4 linked regions of the Homo sapiens genome follow. The protein of the gene in region 1 purifies or fractionates together with the protein of each later gene. This does not show direct contact. Each region holds a gene or a part of one and is shown on either strand. Other genes may lie near its edges. The genes, in order: FOXRED2, OS9, CLGN and MIPEP.

Region 1 (7,182 bases):
GACTTGCCCATGGTTTGCATGTGGGGTGTTGAGACAGGGGTGCCAGGCGTGCTGACTCACGCCTGTAATCTCAGCACTTTGGGAGACCAAGGCGGGTGGATCACCTGAGGTCAGGAGTTTGAGACCAGCCTAGCCAACATGGTGAAACCTAGTCTCTACTAAAAATACAAAATTAGCCAGGTGTGGTGGCATGGGCCTGTAATCCCAGCTACTCGGGAGGCTGAGACACGAGAATCGCTTGAACCTGGGAGGTGGGCTGCAGTGAGCCAAGATCGCACCACTGCACTCCAGCCTGGGCAAGACATAGTGAGACTCTGAGTCAAAAAAAAAAATTAGCCAGGCATGGTGGTGGGTGCCTGTAATCCCAGCTACTTAGGAGGCTGAGGCAGGAGAAGTGCTTGAACCCAGGAGGCAGATGTTGCAGCGAGCAGAGATCGCACCACTGCACTCCAGCCTGGATGACAGAGCGAGACTGTCTCAAGAAAAAAAAAAGAGGGGCAGGGGCATGGAGGGTGATGCGAGGGTTTTGTGCAGAAAGCGGCTGCACTACCTGCATGTCCCTGAACTTGGTGTGCTATAGCACGCCCTGCCTTTGGATCGGGCTGTTCCCTCTGACTGAAGGTTGCTCCCTTGCTTCTCCCTGCCACCTGTCTCCCCCCGCCCCTCACCCCTCTGTGCTCTGCACCGTTTCCTTCTCAGGAACTGTCCATCCTCTGGGATCTGCTGCTTATCACTAAATTGACTCTGACGATGGTGGCCGGCAAGGCCCTGGCCTGAGGGAGCTCTGAGATCCACGTGGCTGCCTCTGACTACTGCTCATCCACGTGATGCCAAACACTTTCCACAAGTGACCTTTACTCCTTCCTTTACTGCTGCAAGGTAGGCACAATTATCCCCATTTTGCAGATGAGGAAGAAGGGCTCAGAGAGGCTCACTAATGTGCCCGTGGCCACTCACAGGACTGTCTGTAGAGTTAATGTCATTGTTTTTCCCCAGAACAGGCATGTTCCCCACAGCAGCCTTCATCTTAGGAAAGAACTGGGCACCTCACACCTGGAATAGGAAGAGAAGCGCTATGCAGCACGTCGGGAAAGCTGGGCCGAGGGGAGTAGGGTGGGGACGGGCTACTCACTCCTTCAACAGGATGACATCGGCCAGCACACCGAACATCTGGTAGAGCCCAGAAGCCTCATTCACGCGCCGCACGATGGAGCTGGTCAGCTGTGTGATGGGGAGCTCAGTGGCGGGCCAGGTGACGCTGTGGTGGCGGTGCTCCAGGAGCCGGTGAACAGCACGCACTGGAACAGCCAGAGGGAGGAACGGCACGCTGCACTTACCATTTTATCTCTGGTCACTGGGAGGGATGCCCAGGCCTCATTGACCCCTGAGAACGCCATACACACTGGTCTCCATGGCCCAGCGCAAACGCCTAGGTGGTGAACACATGAGGGGAGGAGATGGCAGCTGCCTTTAGAGCAGGGCCAGCAGGTATTTTCTGGAAAGGGCCAGACAATCCATATTCTCTGCTTTGTGGGTCATACACGACTCAGTGATGCTGCTCAATTCTGCCCCTAGTGTAAAAGCGGCCAAGACAACAGGCAAAGGAGTGAGCACAGCTGGAGTTGGTCTCCAGGCCAGAGTCCATCTGCCCCTGCTTCAGGCCATCTGCACGTGGGAGTCCCACCGGCCCCACCTCACACAAGGAACGTCAAGTCCAACACGGAGCCTTCCCCAGAAACCTCCCCCCCTTCACAGCTCTGTTTCCATCAGAGACGCGCCTACAGAAATCTTTGATTTCGCCCTCTCTTTCACAGCCTAAATCCATCTGTCTCTAAGTTCTTTTTTTAAATATTTTTTATTTTATTTTTTTGAGACAGGGTCTCGCTCTGTTGCCCAGGCTGGAGTGCAGTGGTGCGATCTCGGCTCACCGCGACCTCCGCCTCCTGGGTTCCAGGAGGAACCGACTCCCAGAATTGAGTCCAATCCTTTGCCCGTACTGTAAGACCCCTCTGCAGTGGTCCCTACACTTATTATTGTAGTCCTCTAACCTGGAATAAAGTCCACCTTACCGTCTTCATTTGTATTATGATTTTTGAGACAGAGTCTCACTCTGATGCCCAGGCTGGAGCGCAGTGGCACGATCTTGGCTCACTGCAACCTCTGCTTCCTGGATTGAAGTGATTCTCCTGCCTCAGCCTCCCAAGTAGTAGGGATTACAAGCCTGGCTAATTTTTGTATTTTTAGTAGAGATGGGGTTTCACCATGTTGGTCAGGCTGGTCTCGAACTTCTGACCTAAGCTGATCTGCCAGCCTCAGCCTCCCAAAATGCTGGGATTATAGGCATGAGCCACTACGCCCAGCCTGCCTTACTGTCTTTAAAAAGAAAAAAGAAATATAAATATTGAATGTCTTTGAGTGGCAGAATATAAAGATTACTCCCCGTAATTCCCTACATTTTCACATTTTTGATGCTCAGGCTAGGCATGGTGGCTCATGCCTGTAATCCCAACACTTTGGGAGGCTGAGGTGGGTGGATCGCTTGAGCTTGGGAGTTTGAGACCAGCCTGGGCAACATGGCGAAAACTTGTCTCTACCACACAAAAATAAAAACAACAAAATTAGCTGGGTGTGGTGGTGCACGCCTGAAGTCCCAGCCACTCAGAAGGCTGAGGTGGGAGGATGGCTTGAGTCTGGGAAGTCGAGGCTGCAGTGAGCCGAGATGGCGCCATTGTACTCCAGCATGGGAAACAGGAAGAGACGCTGTCTCAAAAAAAATAATAATACTAATTTTTTAAAGCTCAGCTGTAAGATTATGACTCCATTCTTTCAAATAGACTCACCTAACCACCTAACTGAATACTGTATGCCTCACTGAGTGAATTTCAACCAACACCCTGTCCTTCTCAGAAGGTTAACCACAGGAGCAGGAACATCTAATTTTTATTTATTTATTTATTTTTGAGACAGAGTTTCACTCTTTTTGCCCAGGCTGGAGTGCAATGGTGTGGGCTTGGCTCACTGCAACCTCCACCTCCAAGGTTCAAGTGATTCTCTTGCCTCAGCATCCCGAGTAGTTGGGATTACAGGCGCCCGCCACCATGCCCGGCTAATTTTGTATTTTAAGTAGAGGTGGGATTTCACCATACTGGCCAGGCTGGTCTCGAACTCCTGCCCTCAGGTGATCCACCCACCTCAGTCTACCAAAGTGCTGGGATGACAGGTGTGACCCACCGTGCCTGGCCACATCTAACATTTTAGACTCCTCTCCACAGAAAGGGCACCAGTTTGCTTTCTATGAAAGAAGAGAAGACCTTTGTAGAAAGTGTCTTTCAGGAAAGCTCCTGGGCCTTGGAGTTTAATTCCCATAATGGTGAGAAAATCACCAAAACTCTGAGCCTCAGAGTTTTACACTCTTGAGGAAAATGGAGATTTCACACCCACCTTTCGGGGTGCTGGCGGCCCTGCCAGGGTCGTGTGTTCAGTGCTCAGCCCACTGAAGTCACCCAACATGCGTGAATTCATCTCTCTCACTTCCTTTTTATTTCCCATTTACTCCTAAAATCACAAGTATCAATTTTTGGTTGGGGATTATTTTAGTGCAATAAATAGAATTATGTTTTTAAAAGATATTTTAGTATTTTCTTTGTAAACATTCTCAAGTTGGCAGAAAATTTATACCCTTGGTACTGAGAGTTTTGAAAAAGAACTGATATAATCCAATTACATTTTTTTTTTTTTTTTTGAGATGGAGTTTTGCTCTTGTTGCCCAGGCTGGAGTGCAATGGTGCGATCTCAGCTCACCGCAACCTCCACCTCCTGGGTTCAAGTGATTCTCCTGCCTCAGCCTCCCGAGTAGCTGGGACTGCAGGCGCACGCCACCACACCTGGCTAATTTTTGTATTTTTAGTAGAGACAGGGTTTCGCCGTGTTGCCCAGGCTGGTCTTGAACTCCTGGCCTGAAGCAATCCACCTGCCTTGGCCTCCCAAAGTGCTAGGATTACAGGCGTGAGCCATTGCACCTGGCCTACACTTAATTTTATTTTATTTTTGAGACCAAGTCTCGCTCTGTCACCCAGGCTGGAGTGCAGTGGTATCATCATGGCTCACTGCAACCTTGACTTCCTGGACTCAAGGGATCCTCCTGCCTCAGCCTCCCAAGTAGCTAGGACTACAGGCGTGGACTTTTACACTTTATCTGATACTTTCCTAAACATGTCGTCAGACCACAAAAACCTGTTGTCACTTCCCCAAGACAATTTATGACAATGAGCTACTGACAAGCAATCCCCTAATGCTTCTGGACATAGGAGTAGATTTATAAACCCTGGGATGCTGAGAGTGGTTCCGTCTGGGGACAGTTCTGCCTTCTCAGCTGGGCTCACCTGTGTATCGGAATCCGTGGATGAAGCCCCCAGCAGATTTCCGGTAGTCCACCGAGTGGCTGGCAGTACCCAGGATAAACAGACCCCGGCTTCCTTTGGATTCGTAGCTAGCTCGAATCAGCGGGTACTTCTTGCCGAATGCATTTCCCGAGTTAAGTCTGAGGGACCTGTCAGTGGAAAGGGCTGTTCATGAAAATAGCTGCTATGTAAGAGGCACTTATTTATTTAGTTAGTTTTGAGATGGAGTTTCGCTCTTGTCGCCCAGGTTAGAGTACAATGGCGTGATCTCGGCTCACTGCAACCTCTGCCTCCTGGGTTCAAACTATTATCCTGCCTGAGCCTCCCGAGTAGCTGGGATTATAGGCTCCTGCCACCATGCCCAGCTAATTTTTGTATTTTTAGTAGAGACCAGGTTTCACCACGTTAGCCAGCCTGGTCTCGATGTCCTGACCTTAGGTGATCTGTCTGCCTTGGCCTCCCAAAGTGCTGGGATTACAAGCGCGAGCCACTGCACCCAGCCAGGAGGCACTTATTACAGTGGCACTTATTACTGGCACTGAGTGCCTTAGATTTCTCGTCTCATTTAAACCTCACCATGACCCCAGGAGGTGGGTATTATCATCTCCATTTAAGAGATGAAGTCGGCCAGGCGAGGTGGCTCACGCCTGTAATCCCAGCACTTTGGTAGGCCGAGGCGGGCGAGTCACAAGGTCAGGAGTTCGAGACCAGCCTGGCCAACACAGTGAAACCCTGTCGCTATGAAAAAATACAAAAAGAGTTAGCTGGGGGTGGTGGTGCAATGGCTGTAATCTCAGCTACTCAGGAGACTGAGGCAGGAGAATCGCTTGAACCTAGGAGGCAGAGGTTGCAGTGAGCCGAGATTATGCCATTGCACTCCAGCCTGGGCAACAGAGTAAGACTCTGTCTCAAACAAACAAACAAACAAACAAACAATGAAGTCAGGCCAGGCACAGTGGCTCACGCCTGTAATCCTAGCACTTTGGGAGGCCGATGGAAAGGAGGGTCTGGACAGGCACACCAGCTTCTCCTTTGTCTTTCTGCACCCTGGTCAGAAGACAAGTGAAAGACTGGATGCTGCTTTGATACCAAACCTCCCGAGGTAGTCGGCAGCAATGTTTAAAATCTAGGCTTCATAAAATAGCCCTTCAAAATACAATGATAAATAACTTAAGCAACTAACATTTTATTGAGCACATAATACATGCCAAGTACTTTCTTTATTTTAAGAGATAGGGTCTCATTATGTTGCCCAGGTTGGAGTGCAGCAGCTATTCACAGGCATGATCATAGCACACTGTAGCCTTGACCTCCTGGGCTCCAGTGATCCTCCTGCCTCAGCCTCCTGAGTAGCTAGGTACTCATCACTGCACCTAGCTCCCAGCACTTTCTTTCCTTTCTTTCTCCCCTCTCTCTCCTTCCTTCTCTCCTCTCTCTTTTTTTGTTTTTGAGATGGAGATCTTGCACTGTCGCCTGGGCTGGAGTCCACAATGGCGCGATCTCGGCTCACTGCAACCTCCACCTCCCAGGTTCAGGCGATTCTCTTGCCTCAGCCTCCCGAGTAGCTGGGATTACCGGCACGTGCCACCATGCCTGGCTAATTTTTTGTATTTTTGGTAGAGACGGGGTTTCGCTACATTGGTCAGGCTGGTCTTGAACTCCTAACCTTGTGATCCGCCCACCTCAGCCTCCCAAAGTGCTGGGATTACAGCATGAGCTACTGTGACCAGCCATCTCTTTTTTTTTTTGAGACAGGGTCTCACTCTGTTGCCCAGGCTGGAATGCAGAGGCATGATCTTAGTTCACCACAGCCTCGACCTCCTGGGCTCAAGTAGTCCTCCCACCTTGGCCTCCTGAGTAGCTGGGACCACAGGCATGTGCCAACACACCTGGCTAATTTTTGTATTTTTTGTAGAGGTGGGGTTTCACCATGTTGTCCAGGCTAGTCTTGAACTCCTGAGCTGAAGTAGTATGCCTGCCTTGGCCTCCCAAAGTGCTGGGATTATAGGTGTGAGACCATGAGCCACTGCACCTGGCCTCTGCACACATTCTTCTTTCTTTTTTTTTTTTTTTGAGATAAGAGTCTCGTCACCCAGGCTGGAGTGCAGTGGTGTGATCTCGGCTCACTGCAACTTCTGCTTCCCAGGTTCCAGCAATTCTCCCACCTCAGCCTCCTGAGTAGCTGGGATTACAGGCACCCACCACCACGCTTGGTTAAATTTTTGTATTTTTAGTAGAGATGGGGTTTCACCATGTTGGCCAGGCTGGTCTCGAACTCCTAACCTCAAGTGATCCACCTGTCTCGGCCTCCCTAAGTGCTGGGATTACAGGTGTGAGCCACCGCACCCAGCCTCCAAGCATATTCTTATGTTAATCCTCGCAATAACCATATGAGAAACAAACTTTGAATCCCATTTTAGACATGAGAATACTGGGCCACAGCGTGGTTAAATAACTTCCGCCGAGGTCACAGATTTGGCAAGCAGAGAATCTCAGGACAATTCCGGCACCTGTGCTCTCAGCCACTACGCTATATTGCCTTCGAGCAAATTCCCCTCTGTATTCTCTCTGAGCCGGCCTTTCCAACTCACAGGTGGAGGCTCCCAATGCTGATGAAGATCTGCTGGTGTTGCTCCAGGACCAAGGGCCTCAGGGCCACCTGGGACCCTCAATGGTCAGAGCTCATGTCCTGGAGGGAAATCAGGCAGCACTCACATCCATTCTTTGGGTGCTGTCCTGAGAGCTCTGTCGCCAGCCTACTGAACAGCCACCCTGTTCCCCT
Region 2 (7,182 bases), on another chromosome or scaffold:
TCCTCTTCTTCCATCTCTCTCTGCCGTTCTGGATCACCCCTTTCCTTCTCTGGTTCCCTCTGAGGGACTTCTGCAGCATCATCCACAGGCTGCTCTTGGCCTATATTTGGCTTCCCCTGGGTGGGTAGGGAGTGGGGAGAAAGACAGTTGGGGTTTCAACAGAGACACATGGTCGGGGGCAGACAAACAGTAGCAGGTGTGTGGTACTGGGGGACCCAGGAGTTGAGTCCCAGGTCAGGGTAGTTTTTCAAATGCTCGCAGTTGGGAGGTGGGTTCTACCCATTCCCTAAGCACGGCCTATACCTTTTTTGTTCCACCTTTCAGCTCCTCTATGAATCGAATCAAATCCGCAGGGCTTCGAATGACTTTGACCTGCACGTTGTTCTGAAAATCTGAGATGAAAGAATAATAATCATGAACCTGTTCTGTTGTGTTTAAATTCTTTTTTTTTTTTTTTTTTTTTTTTTTTGAGACAGAGTCTTGCACTGTCACCCAAGCTGGAGCACAGTGGTGCAATCTCTGCTCACTGCAACCTCTGCCTCCCGGGTTCAAGAGATTCTCCTGCCTCAGCCTCCCAAGTAGCTGGGATTACAGGCGCCTGCCACCACACCCAGCTAATTTTTGTATTTTTAGTAGAGATGGGGTTTCACCATGTTGGCCAGGTTTGTCTTGAACTCTTGACCTCAGGTGATCCACCTGCCTCAGCCTCCCAAAGTGCTGGGATTACAGGCATGAGCCACCACGCCCGGCTCTTTTTCTTTTTCAACATGGTGTGTTACTATGTTGCCCAAGATGATCTTGAACTCCTGGGCTCAAGCAATCTTCCTGCATCAGCCTTCCAAGTAACTAGGATTACAGGTGTGCGCTACTGCGCTCCTAAATTCTCTCTGGATTCCTAAGGACAGGTAATGAGAGACCAAGGAAGGACATGGTCCCTGCCTCTAGGATTTACCTGTTTGACAGTGAGACAAGGGCAAATATTCGCCTGCAGAGAGCACCATCCTAAGGTGGACACTCTGGTAGGAGAGATGGATGCTAACAAGCTGCTAAGTCCCCACTCTTCCATGCACTTCTGAGGCCCTTCTGGCAGTCACTCTAGCTTTTAGGACTACAGAGGAGATCCTGGGGCTAAGGGCTTGTCTTCCCTGGAACCCTTCTCCTCTTTCCACAAATATTAACCATTTAGTTTATTCAGTTCCAGGCCTTCTACTGTGAATTATGGATGCATTCTCATTTAATCCCATGCAACCCTCTAAGGTAGGGGTTATTACCCTCATTTTATGGGTAAGAAAATTGAGGTTAAGTGAATTACAAAGTCACCAAGTGGTGGAGCCACTGTGTTCTGCCACCTTGCTAAAATAGCAGTGCTGTCTACAAAGAGTATTAACTCCTATAAAAATGAATTTTCTGCCGGCCTGGCTACCCAACCTCCCTCCCAGGCTTAGCTCTCCCCTCCATCCCTACCCCTGCCAATCCTAAAATATATTCAGTAAAGGAGACATGGAAGGTTCACTCACCATTGGGAGCACCAGAAGCTGAATCTGCTGCCTCAGGGCTTGGGTCCTGCTCCTGACGAGGAGAAAAGGAGAGAGTCAAGTATGAAAGCCTGTTCATGCCCTCCATACTATGAAGGCAAAGGTTCTGGGGATATCCTTGCATCCCTAGGTAGATGTAGGTCACCTCACAATGGCCCCAGCTGCAGTGACCCTCCCCATCCCCATCCTGCTCCTCTGAGGCAGCTGGTCTCACCTCAGCCGGCACCTCCTCCCCTCCTGGGGCCTGGTCCTCTGGCTCATTAAGCATCTTCCAGAAATCTGAGTCCTTACTGTCATCCTTGGTCGGGCTCGCACCTAGGGTACAGAGAACAGGGAGAGACTGATCTGACAGGAGGGGTGAGACAGAAGGGAGCAAATAGGATGGGGTCCCTTCCCCTCCTCTATCACCAAGGGAGGAGGGCCCATGGTACTTTTCCACCCCCCCCCACCCCACCAGTCAGTCAGGACAGTAAGATCAGGGGAAGGGAAGAAATGGAAGTGAGTTTCACGGAACAGGTGAAACAAGGTCCTACCTGCCATCTTTTGGGGTGCCACCCCAGACTTGGTCTCACTCCACACTTGGGGGCCTAGATCTTGCAGCTCCTCTATGATTTTATCTCCATACTGCTTTGAGTCTACTGAGAAACAGCATGCAAGCAGGCCAGGAACACATTCCTCCAGCTATTCAATACTTGATCTTTTGCCACCCCCTGCCCCCGTATCTCCCCGTCTTCTCCTCCTTCTCTAATTACTCACCGGCTTGCCTCTGAACGTAGGCCATGTACTCCTCAGGCTGTAGGGAAGGGTGACAGAGGATGGCCTGCGGTGCAGCACTGGGTGGGGGCCGGAGGAGAGGGTGGGGGCAGAGCCGAGGAGTGCGAATGGTCAGCACATAAGAGCAGGACAAGGGCTCGTCCACGCGATCGATGTAGTCCCCAGAGATACCTGCACCCTCGTCACAGAGGAACTGCCAGGACAGAAAGGATGAATACACTTAATCACCAACAATAATTTGCTTTAGTTATTAGAGCAGGTGTCTTTTACTAAGCACTGATTATCTGTCAAGCATTGTGCATACACTGTGCATATGGCACTTTACATAAATTGGCTCACTTATCACAAAGACCCAGTGAGGCGATATTGGTTTCTCAACTTCGTGCCTCAAGAAACAGGTGTGGTGCAGTTAAGGCACTTGTTCAGGTTGACCAGCCTTTAAGTGGTAAAAACAGGAACTGAATTCAGGCAGCTTAACTGTAGGTAACCAATTTATGTTTCATATTCTTGTTTTGTATAAATATTGTGTGTGTGTATATATATACTTTTATTTGCTTCATATATGTATTATTATTATTATTATTATTTTTGAGATGGAGTCTCACTCTGTCATCCAGGCTGGAGTGCAATGGCATGATCTCAGCTCACTGCAACCTCCGCCTCCTGGGTTCAAGCGATTCTCCGGCCTCAGCCTCCCGAGGAGCTGGGATTACAGGCACCTGCCATCATGCCTGGCTAATTTTTGTATTTTTGTAGAGACAGGGTTTCACCATGTTAGCCCAGCTGGTCTTGAACTCCTGACCTCAGGTGATCCACCCACCTTGGCCTCCCAAAGTGCTGGGGTTACAGGCATGAGCCACAAGGCCTGGCCTGTATTTTTTTTAAAGTGTATATATATTTGTATATAAATATGTAATTTTTATATATGTGCATATGGTAAAAAACTTCAAACAATTCTAAGATTCTTATATCATTCAGAAAGAGGGTAAAGAGATTGATTGGCCTTTGATAAATTAAGCATGCAATATTCTAATTTCTAAAATAACTATTAAAAGTAAGAGAGGCTGGTGGTTCACACCTGTAATCCCAACACTTTGGGAGGCCAAGGCAGGAGGATGGCTTGATGCCAAAAATTCAAGACCAGCCTTGGCAACATAGTGAGACTCATCTCCACAAAAAATTTTTAAAAATTAGCGAGGTGTGGTGGTGTGCACCTGTAGTCTTAGCAACTTGGGAGACTGAGGCAGGAAGATCCCTTAAGCCCAGGAGTTCAAAGTTACAGTGAGCTATGATCATGCCACACTGCATTCCAACCCGTGTGGAAAGCAAGACCTTGTCTCAAAAACAAAAAGTGGGAGCGGTCCTACTTCTGAAATGGCAGCATGAGGGATTTCGCACACTCCACAGGGAAACTCCATTACTGATGAAAATTTAAAAACACAAAGCATGGCTGGGCGCGGTGGCTCACACCTGTAATCCCAGCACTTTGGGAGGCCGAGGCAGGTGGATCACCTGAGGTCAGGAATTCGAGACAAGCCTGACCAACATGGAGAAACCCCATCTCTACTAAAAATACAAAATTAGCCAGCCTTGTGGCACATGCCTGTAATCCCAGCTACTCGGGAGGCTGAGGCAGGAGAATTGCTTGAACCTGGGAGGCCAAGGTTGCGGTGAGCCGAGATCGCACCATTGCACTCCAGCCTGGGCAACAAGAGTGAAACTCTGTCTCAATACAAACAAACAAACAAACATAAAGCATTTAAACTCTTTGGAAATTTTCCTAAGGACATATAACAAATGAAGAAATGTTTACTCAAGAAAATCTACTAAATCTTTTTTTTTTTTTCAGACAGGGTCTCACTGTGTCACCCAGGCTGGAGTGCAGTGGCATGATCACAGCTCACTGAAGCCTCAACCTCCTAGGTCCAAGCAATCTTCCCACTTCAACCTCCCAAGGTAGGACTACAGGTGTGTGCCACCATATCCAACTAATTTTTACAAATTTTTTTGTAGAGACAGGGTCCCGCTATGTTGTCCAGGCTTTCCAGGGCTCAAGCAATCCTCCCACCCAAAGTGCTGGTATTACAGGTGTGAGCCACCATGCCCAGCTACTAAATCTTGAATAGTGAGAATTTGCAGCACTTGAACCATGACATGCTCCCTCAATCTATGCCCCAAACCCCTACCCCACAGCTCAGTTAGACTAAAGCTCCACTCCAGCAGGTAAGCGTAGTTAAAAAAAAAAAAAAAAAAAGTGGGGTGGGGCGGTGGAGGGGGAGGGACTTCCTATTCTCTCAACATCCAGTCATGAGATATGATATATGGTATTTTACCAGGAGGGCCACCAGCTCCAAGATACAGCAACTAAATTCCTGAAAAAGATCAAGGGCTCCCTTCCTCCACTCAGCCCCACCCACAGGGCAGAGGCTTTACCTCAAGTGCAGTGGGACAAAAGTATCGGGGCCCTGATTGCCCTCACGGAAGCTTGCTCAGAGAGTGGAGGTTTCACAAAAGGAGATGCAAACCGAGAGAGCAGAGGTTGTCATCCCTGCCTAGCTCCCTGCTCATAAAGCAGGAATGTCCTTCCAAGTGAAGCAAGCCATTATTCCTGACCCCAACTCCAGAGCAGGGCCTCGGGGATTTTGCCCAGGGGGAGAGGCAGTCCGTAAGAATACAGGGCTCCAAAACATTCTCCAAAGGACCTGACTTAATATGAAACAGAGTATGGGGAAATTCAAGCCTATAGGCACTTCAAAAATGTAGAGATTTTGGCAGGAGGCAATTAAAAGGAGGCTGATTGCTCCATGATAGCAACAGGCTAAACCTTGGGACAGCTAGTTTAACAGAGAGAACCAGGGAAAGGGCAACTGAGAGCCGTCCTGGACTCAGAACAAACCTATATATTGCCCTCAAAAACTAGCCCGACAAAGGGGCCCACAATTAACTGGACTAAACTATGGAACAACTTATGCCCCACATGTCAAAAACAATAAAGCAATTAGTTGGCAATGAATGGAGCCTAACAGCTGGGGGTGATACCAGCAGAGGCAGATGGCTTAACAAATTCATGAAAGAAACAGTCAAAAAGCCTGCTGAAACCACTGTCATCTAGTGTGGCTGTGTGCAGGGCCAAGACCGTGCACTCTGAGAAGAGACACTAGAGGCTTCATGTTGTGAGGGGGAGACTGAATGCAAGTAGTGCAGCCAAGTCACTGAACAAATGAACAAACAAAAGCCATGGGGTGGAGGGCAGGAATTTCTATCTGGAGTTACTACAACATACTATCTAAAATGTCTGATTTTCAACAATTATGAAACATGCAGAAACAGTAAAGTATGAAACATATATAGGAAAATATGCAGGCAACAGAAACCACCTGTGAGAGGGCCCAGATGTTGGATCTCACAAAGAGTTAAAAGTAGCCATTATATTAATAAATATATTCAAAGAATTAAGAATTTAAGTCACACAAAGTGTGTTCTCTGACCATAATGGAATAAAATTAGAAATGAATGAGGAAAAAAATTTGGAAATTCAGAAATATGTAGAAATTAAACAATATACTCATTAAGTAACCAGTGAGTTAAAGGAAAAAAATCAAAAGAAAACTATAAAATACCTCAAAAATGAACGAAAATGAAGACATAACATATCCAAACTTACAGGATGCAGCTGAAGTAGTGCTTAGAGGGAAATTCATAGCTATAAACATCAATTTTTTAAAAACAAAATCTTGACTCCATAATCTACCCTTCTATCTTAAGAAACTAGAAAAAGAAGAACACACTAAACCAAGAGCCAGCAGAGGGAAAGACTACAGACTAGGACAAAAATAAATGAAATAGAGAACAGGAATACCATCCTATGTGTCCAAAGACAGGGAACCACAGATACACCTTTGTAGGGAGTTTATATATGTTTTTAAGTTTCTGTAATAAAAAGTTTAAAAAAGACAATCTTTAAATATCCATAACTTGCACCTGGCAATTATGCTTTTTTTGCTTACTTTCTTTTTCTTCTTTTTTAATAGATGCAGGGTCTTGCTCTGTTGCCCAGGCTGGTCTCAAACTCCTGGGCTCAAGTGATCCTCTCTCCTCAGCCTCCCAAAGTGTTGGGAATATTGGCATTAGCCACTGTGCCCAGCCCAATTATATGTAAGATATATTTACACATGCATATATGTACAATGTAATAATCATTTGTGACAACAAAAGAATTGGGGGTGGAACTATTTCAACCAGTAGAATAATGGTGACAAAATGATGGAACACACAATGGAATTTTATGCAGCTATAAAAACAAAAAAGGGCCAGGCATGGTGGCTCATGCCTATAATCCCAGCACTTTGGGAGGCCAAGGAGGGCAGATCACGAGGTCAAGAGATCAAGGCCATCCTGGTCAACATGGTGAAACTCCATCTCTACTAACAATACAAAAATTAGCTGGGTGTGGTGGCGCACACCTGTAGTCCCAGCTACTCGGGAGGCTGAGGCAGGTGAATCCCTTGAACCCGGGAGGTGGAGGTTGCAGTGAGCAGAGATCGCGCCACTGCACTCCAGCCTGGGTAACAGAGCAAGACTCCGTCTCAAAAAAAAAAAAAAAAAAAAAAAAAAGATATACTGCCATTGAAAGATCTCTCTAAGGTTTATTGTCCAGGGAAATAAAAGCAAGGTATAGAACAGTGTGTTTAATTTACTATATATTGTTTATAAATAAAGGGGAAAGGAAATAAGAATCTCCATTCATAATTGTTTGTAATCACACAAAAAGGCTGGAAGGATACATGCAAAACTAAGACCAGGGTTAACCTGTGGGGCTGGAGCAGGGATGGCGGGGAGAGAATGGGAAATGAGCAGATGAGAGACAAGTATG
Region 3 (7,182 bases), on another chromosome or scaffold:
GGTGGAGTCTTGTTCTTGTTTCCCAGGCTGGAGTGCAATAGTGCGACCTCAGCTCACTGCAACCTCTGCCTTCCGGGTTCAAGCAATTCTCCTGCCTCAGCCTCCAGAGTAGCTGGGATTACAGGCACCTGCCACCACGCCTGGCTAAGTTTTTGTATTTTTAGTAGAGATGGGGTTTCACTATGTTGGCCAGGTTGGTCTTGAACTCCTAACGTCAGGTGATCCACCCACCTCAGCCCCCCAAAGTGCTGGGATTACAGGCATGAGCCACCATGCCTGGCTGGAGCATATATATATACATATATATATATATATGTATATATATATATATGTATATATATATATATACACATATATATATATACACATAGCTTCATTCTTAACAGTTGCATAGTTTTCTACTTGAGGATACACCATAATTTATTTAGCTTATCTCCTCTTGGAGGACATTTAGTGTTTCCAAAATTTTACTATTATTAATACAAACAATGCCATAGTGAATGTCCTAGAATATATGCCATTTCTCATCTGTGAAAATATAATTGTTAAGAGTATGGACATTTTAAATTTTGATAGTAGCATCCAAATTACTCTCTATAATGGTTACACTCCACTTCCGGTTCTACCAGCAGCATGCAAAAGTACCTATTTTCTCCTGTCCTTGCGAAGAGTGTTACCAAACTTCTTGATTTCTGCCCATGTGGTAGGTGAAAAATGGTATCTCACTGAACTTTGAATGTACATTTAGTAGCATAAGTGATACACAAAAACTATTTTTTCTTAGCTCATTACCTTTATACTAAGAAATTAGCTCTCTGTCAGCTATATGATTGAAAATAATTTTTCCTGGTTCTTGTGTGTTTTTTGAAATAGTTTAGGGAGGTTTTTTTTTTTGCAATATACAAATCATTTATTTTCATGTAGTTGAACTTATTTTTAAAGGATTCTTGGATTTTATGTCATATTTGGAAAGTTCTTCCCTATTCCAATATAATTTTTAAAACTCTCCTTATTTAATTCTAGCATTCTTATTTTAAAAAGAACACTTAGGCTGGCGTGGTGGCTCAAGCCTGTAGTCTCAGCACTTTGGGAGGCTGAGGCGGGAGGATCACGAGATCGGGAGTTCGAGACCAGCCTGACCAACATGGTGAAATCCCATCTCTACTAAAAATACAAAAATTAGCCGGGCGTGGTGGCGCTTGCCTGTAATCCCACCTACTCATGAGGCTGAGGCAGGAGAATCCCTTGAACCCAGGAGGCAGAGGCTGCAGTGAACTGAGATCACGCCATTGCATTCTAACCTGGGTGACAGAGCGAGATTCCATCTCAAACAAAAACAAAAACAAAAACAAAACACTTAGTAAATTCTGAAGTATATAAACATAAAGTACTGAACTACTAATACAATTTTCATCATTACAGAAAGATAGAAATTTTAAACAAGAGGACACTTCATGATTTTCCAAATGAGTTACAAAATAAACAGAAATAATCAACTTTACAAATGTATAGATTTGTGCTTGCCTGATACCAATGTCATCTTGAGTTTCTGAGTGCTCAGAGTAACCAAAAGTTAAAATTTAATGGAGCATTTCTTTTAGTACTTTGTAAAACAAATTCTAACACATTTCAACAATCAGAATGAAGCAGTTATATGTGGTTTCTCTCATTTAAGGGCAAACATACTCTTTTTTTTTTTTTTTTTTTTTTTTGAGACAGAATCTTGCTCTGTCACCAGGCTGGAGTGCAGTGGCACGACCTTGGGCTCACTGCAGCCTCTGCCTCCTGGGTTCAAGCAATTCTCCTGCCTCAGCCTCCCGAGTAGCTGGGATTACAGGCACCCGCCGCCATGCCCGCTAATTTTTGTGTTTTTAGTAGAGACGGGGTTTCGCCATGTTGGCCAAGCTGGTTTCGAACTCCTGACCTCAGGTGATCTGCCCACCTCGGACTCTCACACACATACAATAAAGATCAAACTAGGAATGAAAATTAAAGCACTGGTATTTTGGATTTATGAAATTTTTAATCCACAGCATTGAAAACATAAAAAATAAATATATATTAAAAAATGCAACATAATTATCAATAGAAATAAAAAAAAATTACAGGGAGGGAAGTGTAAAATCCATTTTAGAAAATATTTCACCCAAAATACTAAAAATAAGTAGTTCTGATGTTTAAAAAAATAAACTTCATGGGTTGTAAACTTCACTTATATGTTGTTTCATTACCTAGTTATGCCAGATAATGCTTTGCTACCGAATTATTTGCTTACCAGTCTTCTGGTTTGACGGCAGAAGGATCAGGAATTTTTGCTCTTTCATCCCATTCCTCAGGTTTTTTATCATTGGGATCTTCAATTTCTTTGGGAGGTTTGATAGGAGGAACCACATCCTCTAGGAGGCTTCCTTTGTTTACAACTGTTTGATCAACTAACACCTCAAATGTGTCATCTGGATTCATCACTAAGGGACCAATTTAAATAAATTATAGTTATCATTTTGATATACGCTTTAAAGATAATCTTCTAAATAATGTAACTACCCTTAACTCCATGGGTAAAGCTTTTTTCCCAACCAGAAATAGAGGAATAACCAATGTATTGAACTAAAACATTCTAAAATCACTAGATACATTTCCTAAAGATAAAATTTTGTTTTAAACTGCATTTTTTACAATAAAATGCTCCATTACTTCTCAAATAAAAAATAATACCAAATAGCTCTGTTTTGGGACTCATAACGAGTCAGCTTCACTCTTTTATAGTTACAAAATACAAGCTAATCTTTTTCAGCATTTAATTTTTTTGATACCATCTTAAAGTGTTGTAAGTATAACAAAAAATTAATTTATTCTGTTCTAGTAATATTTTCTCATTATTTCTACAGTTTACTTGGTGTTCCCCCAAATGCCTAGTTTTTTCAATTATTTCATAAAGATATTTATTATATCACATCTGATATTGAAGATGAAATGGGCATTGCCCGAGCAGACAAAATGAATGTTTCTACCACTGCAGCATTTGGGGAAAAAGATTGAAATACTTTAATCTTGGGTGGAGTTGAGACGTGAGAAAGGAAGCCAATAGGGCCATTTCAAAATGTCCTATTAGGTTCCAATATGCTCTGATTTTGATAGTGGGCTGACCAGAGCTCTACAGCCATTATACTTGAGAATGGGAGAAACAACTGCTTATGATGTCCCTCACCCCCATATCTATGCAAATTCCTATTTACTTAAGTATATTAATATATGGCTGCTCAATGCTTCTCCTTTCGAAGTACATGCCACAACCAACACAAGGTAGGACATAACAATAATCACAACTGCCTACAGAATAAAGTCTAAACTTTTTAGTCTGGCATTAAGGGCCTCTTCCTTTTTATTTTTTAGTTTTCTGTTCTGGCCTCTTCCTTTTTATTTTCTAGTTTTCTGTTCTTACAGCACCACTGTCACAACGTCTAAAATGTCCTTTCACCCTACTGTCTTCAACATTCTATCTGTACTTCAAGACGAGTTCAAATATAATCTTTCCTAGCTTTGTTCCAAGTCTCTAAGCTGGAAGTAATATTGCTTGTGAACTCTTAGCTGTGCCTCATCTCTCTTTCTTATATGGTACTTTATTTTCTACCCGTGCTGTCATTATACATGTCCTATTTTCTGAAAAAGATAAGCTCCTTCAGGATGGGGTACACATTTGTTTTCTTGTAAAGCACTTGCCATGAATACATCAATAGTCAGCAAATATTTTTGAATACATGAATGAATTAAAAGGGTATACCAAGGGTATAAAGATGAGTCTTCCTGTCTGTAAAGAACTTTTTAAGGTCTACATCTGGAGGTTTGGCATGTTTCTCTTCGAAAACTCCAGTTTTGGGATGTTTATGTCTGAAGATAAAATGAAGTTTATAATCTTCTCCACATTTATCTGGTCCAAACATAATGATATAGGATGTTTTATCATAAAAGTTTTCCTTCAAAGAGAGATGAGTGTTGGCATTAGTCCAGAATCACAGACTATTTAATGCATTTCTGTATTTTATCCAATGGGTAGAGTTTACAAAAATATATTAAATGGTAATTCACCAGAGAGCTAGCTATTTAATACAAGTGACAATAAAGGACATGGGAAAATGACAAATTTTACTTCAATATAGATTTTTTTAAGTACACACTACTTCCTGACGATGTGGGACAGAAGCTGAAAATACTCTAGCAACACCATAATATGCTTTAACTCTCTATGTAAATCTATATTACTAATATTTTTATTGAGAGAATTAGGCATTAGAGGAAAGCATATTTATGGCCTTAAGACTAAAATTATCACCCATTACTATTACTTAGGAAGATACCAGAAAATGACCCTCTGAGCACAAGATGAAGAGAGATTCATTCAGACATAAAAACAGACACGAGGACATGAATTTCTCTTTATTTGGCATGGCATAGTGGTTAACAGCATGGGGCATGGAGTCAGATACTGGGGTTCAAATCCTACCACTGCCTCTTAAACTAGTTGGGTGTCACCCTGACTCAAATTTTTTAAAGCTCTCTGCACCTCCATTTCATCACCTCTGAAGTATGGAGATGATAATAGTACCTACCTTATAAGAGTTCTCTAAGGATTAAGTGAATTAATCAGATAAAGTGCTTATAGAAATACTTGGCATTAGATTTTTTTGTCATCCTACCTTCAAGTGTTCATCTAAAACAAGAGCTTCAACATATACTCCAATGGCCTCTCCTTCACTTGATCCTAATAATAATGAGTAGTACATGAAAAAGTCTCCCATCTACATTTCATAGCTTATGTACAGCTAAGTGTTCTGAAAAATATACCCCTGATGTCTCATCTATCGTATTTCTGTTATATGCAGAAAGTCTGAAACAGCCTTTTACAGGAGAAGGCTATAAGAAATATCCCCAACTTTCCAATGGTCCTAATACAACCTCTTAGAAGTATAAACCTATTTCATCATGAAAAGTTTTTAAAATTAGTTACTTTCTGTGGGTTGCTAACCCCTTTTAATTTGGTTCTTCGGCCATTTTGTTTCACTGCTATGCTTTGTTATGCTTCTCTAAACAAACTTAAGAGTCTTATTCTGTAAAGAAAATAACTCTAAGCTATATTTCAAAAGAAATTTATAAGTATCACGTAGTTTTTGTCCTACAGACATGGTAAACTTTTTCATGTTGTTAAAGATTATAAAATTGATGCCTTCAAGTAACACAGCTTTATATAAAACTTGAAGGCGAATTGTAAGAGCTATGTAAATTCACATTGAAAAAAGATATCTACAATTCTTTTCAATTTCAGTTGAAGACAAAATATTCAGTTTTATCATTTGTTCCTTAAAAATACTTATTAACTTTAATAAGGTTTTCTTAAATATTAAAATATCATACCAGAATCAAATCATCAGTGTCTGCTAGGAGTTTAATGTATGCACCTCCACAATCAATACCATCTTGAAAATTTACTTCATATCTGAATAAAGGGAAAAAGAACCGTACTACTGATAAATAAAATTTACTAGTTGCTCTTTAAAATATAATCTTATTATTCTCAATTCATGTAAGTATAAATTTTTTTACATTATCAGAAAACTCATATAAAGCATATCTACAACCTATAGGAAATAAGCAGAAACGCTTTTCTACTACTCTAAAACAAGACACATCATTAAAATATTAAAAATAGAATGATTACAATCAACTGCAGACAAACCAATCAATTTGTTTAAATTTTTTTCCATCAAAACTGATAAATTAAGCATAAGATACTGTAACTAAAACTACAACAGGAAATTTCAAATTCTGATAAGGTAAGCACTATACTTACACTTTATAAACTAAAAAAAAATAAAGGCCGTAAGAACCACAGCTACAGCAAGATTTCTACGAAATTGCTAATGATCTTAGATACCTAGAGTTCATTACACCTTACCATGTTAAATAAGTTGTACATTTAATTAAATAGCTCCAGCAAAGAGATTCATAATCTCAGTCAATAAGCTGGATTTCAGACCTAAACAGCCAGGAGATATGGGAAATTTTCACTGTTTAGTATAACAGCTAAAAGAATGAACATGAGAGTCTCTTATGAATTTACAACACAGTGTAATTCTCAGCAAAGTTTTTTTTTCTTTATTGGTAACTTTAAAAGGAAATAGCCTTGCTATGGCAATGAGGCATAGACTTACGAGATTTTTTGTTGTTAAATTAACGAATTATATGTGACAAAAATCAACAAGGAAATGGCTGTCAAACAGTAAAAACAAAAAAGGTTATGATTTCATTAAATGAATTAAATCAAAAAGACATGAAAACTAGAGAAATAACCAGAAATAATGATCATTTTAATAAAGGACTATAGTTGTAAATGTTTCTGAAGAAATTTAGTGACAAGAAGGTAAAACATGATAGTATACAAAATTTTAACAGTTTGAACTCAATTGGTGTACATATTTTGTATTAAAAAAAAGGAAACAAAATTTTAAGTATCTCTGATTTGAAAGGGGTGATTTTCTCCTATACTTTTTACCATGCTTTATTTCTTAAGCTATCTACAACAGTGGCCACAAGCATGTACTTTAAAGTCAAAATGACCTGAGAGTTATTCTTGATTCTGCCACTTACTCTAGTGACTCCTTGGGTAACGGCAAGTCATTTAAGCTCTAAGTCTCTATTTGCTCATCTATAATATGCAGACATGGCCCATACTTACACCTCAAAGGATTGTTATGATGATTAAAGGATATCATGCCCAATGAGGGGCAAATACATGCTCAAAATGCTTCTATGATAATCAGAAGGAAGGTATTCTTTCGTTCTTTTTCATTTTTTAAATAGAGGACAGTTTGTTTTCCTCAAAGTCTTATCTTTATTTTAAGCAATAGCTGACAAAATTTTGTTTTTCATGGAATTTAAGTATTTGAAGACTATAAGTAGAACACGTGGTGCATGATATGACTTAAAGGTCACTGTTTTTAGAAAAAAAATTAAAAAGATTTTGCTTTATAATAGATTATCTCAGGACAGAGCATTCTGTAAAAAGGTAAGAATTGGAAAAAACAATTTTGTACAGTGGCTGCATAAATGTGAACACAGTTTCATTGTTCCATTATGCCTAGATTCAATCACCTTGTCCATTTCTTATACTGCAAACTTTTAGAGTTT
Region 4 (2,894 bases), on another chromosome or scaffold:
TTTAATGGTGGGAAAAACCCATTAAATAATTTATTTCCTGATATTAACCAAAATACAGTATGGTATGCAATACTGTAAAGCAAATGAGTTCCAGATAAAAACAGACATGGTCTGTTTCCTGATTCACCAGTTGCTTGACACTGGTATGTCACTTATTAATTGTACCTGCACTTACTCATTCTACCTTCATTGCCAAGCCAGTCCTCTGTGTTCTGAGTCTATTTGCCTAAACATTCAGGAAAAAACAGTACAGATAATTACATGTATTTTGGAAACCACACTTGGTTTGTTGGTTGCCTGTAATTGACTATTTAAAGTGCATTTTCTAAGCCTACTTTAGATAGTGGTCTTAAGAAATGGTCATCATTCTTAAAAGAACTATAAGTGTAACCTGTCTGAAGACTGCTTCAAACTCTGTCTTAAACAATTTTGCTTTTAGTTAATTATTTAATTAAACCAATTAAAGATCCATGGAAAGAGGGAAAAGCTCAACAGGAGAGTGGTTATACTAAGGAAATGCCCATACCCTCCATTTAACAATGCCATGTAGAAGTGTTGTTGTTACTAGGTCAGAGATTTCCATGTGCTCAAATATTTGCCAAACAGGTGAAAAGCCAGAATAATTAAAACAAATTATTTATTCCAAGTTCTACCAGTTTAAAGTTTTTCAGAATTACAGAAGCGAACAATGAAATCAGAAACAAGCTCTCACAGCTGTAGCATTTATAACAAAGTCATTATCTACATGACCTTGATTTAAGAGGTGTAGAGTGTTTCTTTTATTCAGAATCCATGAGGAAAGTTTCGAAGTCCAGATCCAAGTCGGAAACGAGGGCACTTACGAAGTCATCAACAGAAGGACACTTCTGAAGCATACCTGCAAACAAAGGAAAGGTCAGAACTGCGTTCACCAGGAGGCAACAGGAAGCACAAAGACACAAAATCAAATCCACACACTAGAGGAACACTCTGGCTTTCTGAATTAAGACTCTGGCTGTATAACCTGAATGCAAGAACATTTTATAAAGTCATGGGCAGTGTGTGGGCCTTGGAGCTATTTATAATTTTAATGTATTTTTACTATCAAATCCATCCTTAGCTTAGAGATTTAGGCCTAAATATATTTCCTAAGGGCTATTATTTTTGCATATATGACTATACCCTTAGAGACTGATATTAGAAGACTGATTTTTTTTTAGTTATCTTTGACTGGGATGATTCACAATTTAACAAGTTTAATTACATATCAAGTTTTGTTATCAAGTTCTATACACTTTACAATCAATTAGATGTTAATTCTTTTATAGAAATCTTATATCAGAATCAAGTTATTGGCTCTCCTCCAGATTTCCCTGTCCCAGAGAACTCCTAGCTTTGCAACTTAGTAACTGTGTAACGCAGAAGTCACTTAAAATCTCTGGCATCCAAATTTCCTACAAGGTTGCTATAAGGATCAAACAAGAAGATGTAGTAGAAGCAATGAAGCACCATGCCTAGCATATATTAAGAATTCAATAAAAAGCTGAATTCATGTCCTTTCTTCACTCTAAAGAAGCCAAAAACAAAGATTGATGCAATTAACCTTATTGCTTTAACCTACATTCTTGGCAGGAAATGCTAACTGAAGGGTTGAACAGGCTCTATATACTGATATTTACTTTGGGAGATGAATTCTGTAAAACCATTTTCAAAATCAAGGCATTAAAAGATTGCAGGAATCCTCTATTGTTCTCTGAACCTGTATTGCAATTCAGTGAACATGAAGGAAGCATCTGTTGTGTGTAAAGGATCAGGCCAGGTCATGGGCATACAGGTGGGCAGGCTCAGTCACAACATGAAGAGTGAGAGTAGTCGGCTGGGCAGAACTGCATATCCATACGGCAGAAAACTAGCCTTGACTCCTACTGCATACCATACATAAAAACTAATTTGAGATGGTCACAGACCTAAGTGTAAACACTAAAATTATTATCTTAAAAAAACCGCATGAAGTATCTTTGTGACCCTGAAGTAGGTATAGTTTCTTAGGACACAGAAAGCAATGCATAAAAGGAAAAAATGTTAGATTTCATCAAAATTTAAAATGTCTCTTGAAAAGAAACCATTAAGCCAATGAGTAGACAAATGATAGTTGGAAAAAATACTCACAAAACATATCTCACGTAAGACTGGTATCCAGAAAATATAAAGAACTCCTTTGACCCATTGTAAAAATATGTTTTTTTAAATTACAAATTGACAAAAGATTTTACCTTCACAAGGTCAGGTTTTTCACAGAAGATATCTGAATAAGTAACACAACTAATAGGCACTGAGAAGACATTCAACATCATTAGTCACTAGGGAAATGAAAACCAAACCCACAATGAGATACTATTACACATCCACCAGAATAGCTAATTTTTTTTTTTTTTTTTTTTTTTTTTAAAGACAAGGTCTTGCTCTGTTGTCCAGGCCTGGACAACACAGCATGTGCAGTGGTGTGAACATGGCTCACTGCAGCCTCGACTTCCCAGGCTGAAGTGATCCTCCCGTCTCAGCTTGAGAGTAGCTGGAACCACAGGTGTGTGCCACCATGCCCAGCTAGTTTTTAAACTTCTTGTAGAGATGGGGTCTTGTCATGTTGCCCAGGCTGGTCTTGAACTTCTGGGCTCAAGCGATCCTCCTGCCTTGGCCTCTCAAAGTGCTGGGATTACAGGCGTGAGCCACTGTGCTACACCAAATGTTGACAAGGCTGTGTGCAACCTGAATTGTCATACATTTGTGGTGAAAGGATAAAATGATACAATCACTTTGAAAAAAGGTCTTAACCAGTGTCTTACGAAACTAAACATAGACCTACACTAGGACCCAGCAATTTCACTCCCAGGTATTTATCCAAGAGAAATGAAAGC

The links.
Region 2: the proteins of FOXRED2 (region 1) and OS9 purify together in Homo sapiens (affinity purification with western blotting; 2 studies listed by BioGRID and IntAct, with this or other methods). This does not show direct contact.
Region 3: the proteins of FOXRED2 (region 1) and CLGN purify together in Homo sapiens (co-immunoprecipitation; 2 studies listed by BioGRID and IntAct, with this or other methods). This does not show direct contact.
Region 4: the proteins of FOXRED2 (region 1) and MIPEP purify together in Homo sapiens (affinity purification with mass spectrometry; 2 studies listed by BioGRID and IntAct, with this or other methods). This does not show direct contact.

The regions. Positions count from the first base shown.
Region 1 is NC_000022.11:36,496,859-36,504,040, forward strand, and holds part of FOXRED2 (FAD-dependent oxidoreductase domain-containing protein 2 isoform 1 precursor), read right to left. Parts: intron 4,550-7,182; coding exon 4,383-4,549; intron 1,299-4,382; coding exon 1,133-1,298; exon of another isoform or gene 997-1,132; intron 880-996; exon of another isoform or gene 700-879; intron 1-699.
Region 2 is NC_000012.12:57,711,080-57,718,261, reverse strand, and holds part of OS9 (protein OS-9 isoform 1 precursor), read right to left. Parts: intron 2,503-7,182; coding exon 2,292-2,502; intron 2,174-2,291; coding exon of another isoform or gene 2,171-2,173; coding exon 2,069-2,170; intron 1,851-2,068; coding exon 1,750-1,850; intron 1,570-1,749; coding exon 1,518-1,569; intron 393-1,517; coding exon 304-392; intron 117-303; coding exon 1-116. UniProt on the Homo sapiens protein: Lectin component of the HRD1 complex, which functions in endoplasmic reticulum (ER) quality control and ER-associated degradation (ERAD).
Region 3 is NC_000004.12:140,396,576-140,403,757, forward strand, and holds part of CLGN (calmegin precursor), read right to left. Parts: intron 5,492-7,182; coding exon 5,410-5,491; intron 3,975-5,409; coding exon 3,782-3,974; intron 2,466-3,781; coding exon 2,276-2,465; intron 1-2,275. UniProt on the Homo sapiens protein: Functions during spermatogenesis as a chaperone for a range of client proteins that are important for sperm adhesion onto the egg zona pellucida and for subsequent penetration of the zona pellucida.
Region 4 is NC_000013.11:23,729,569-23,732,462, forward strand, and holds the end of MIPEP (mitochondrial intermediate peptidase), read right to left. Parts: intron 878-2,894; coding exon 780-877; 3' UTR 621-779; downstream 1-620. UniProt on the Homo sapiens protein: Cleaves proteins, imported into the mitochondrion, to their mature size.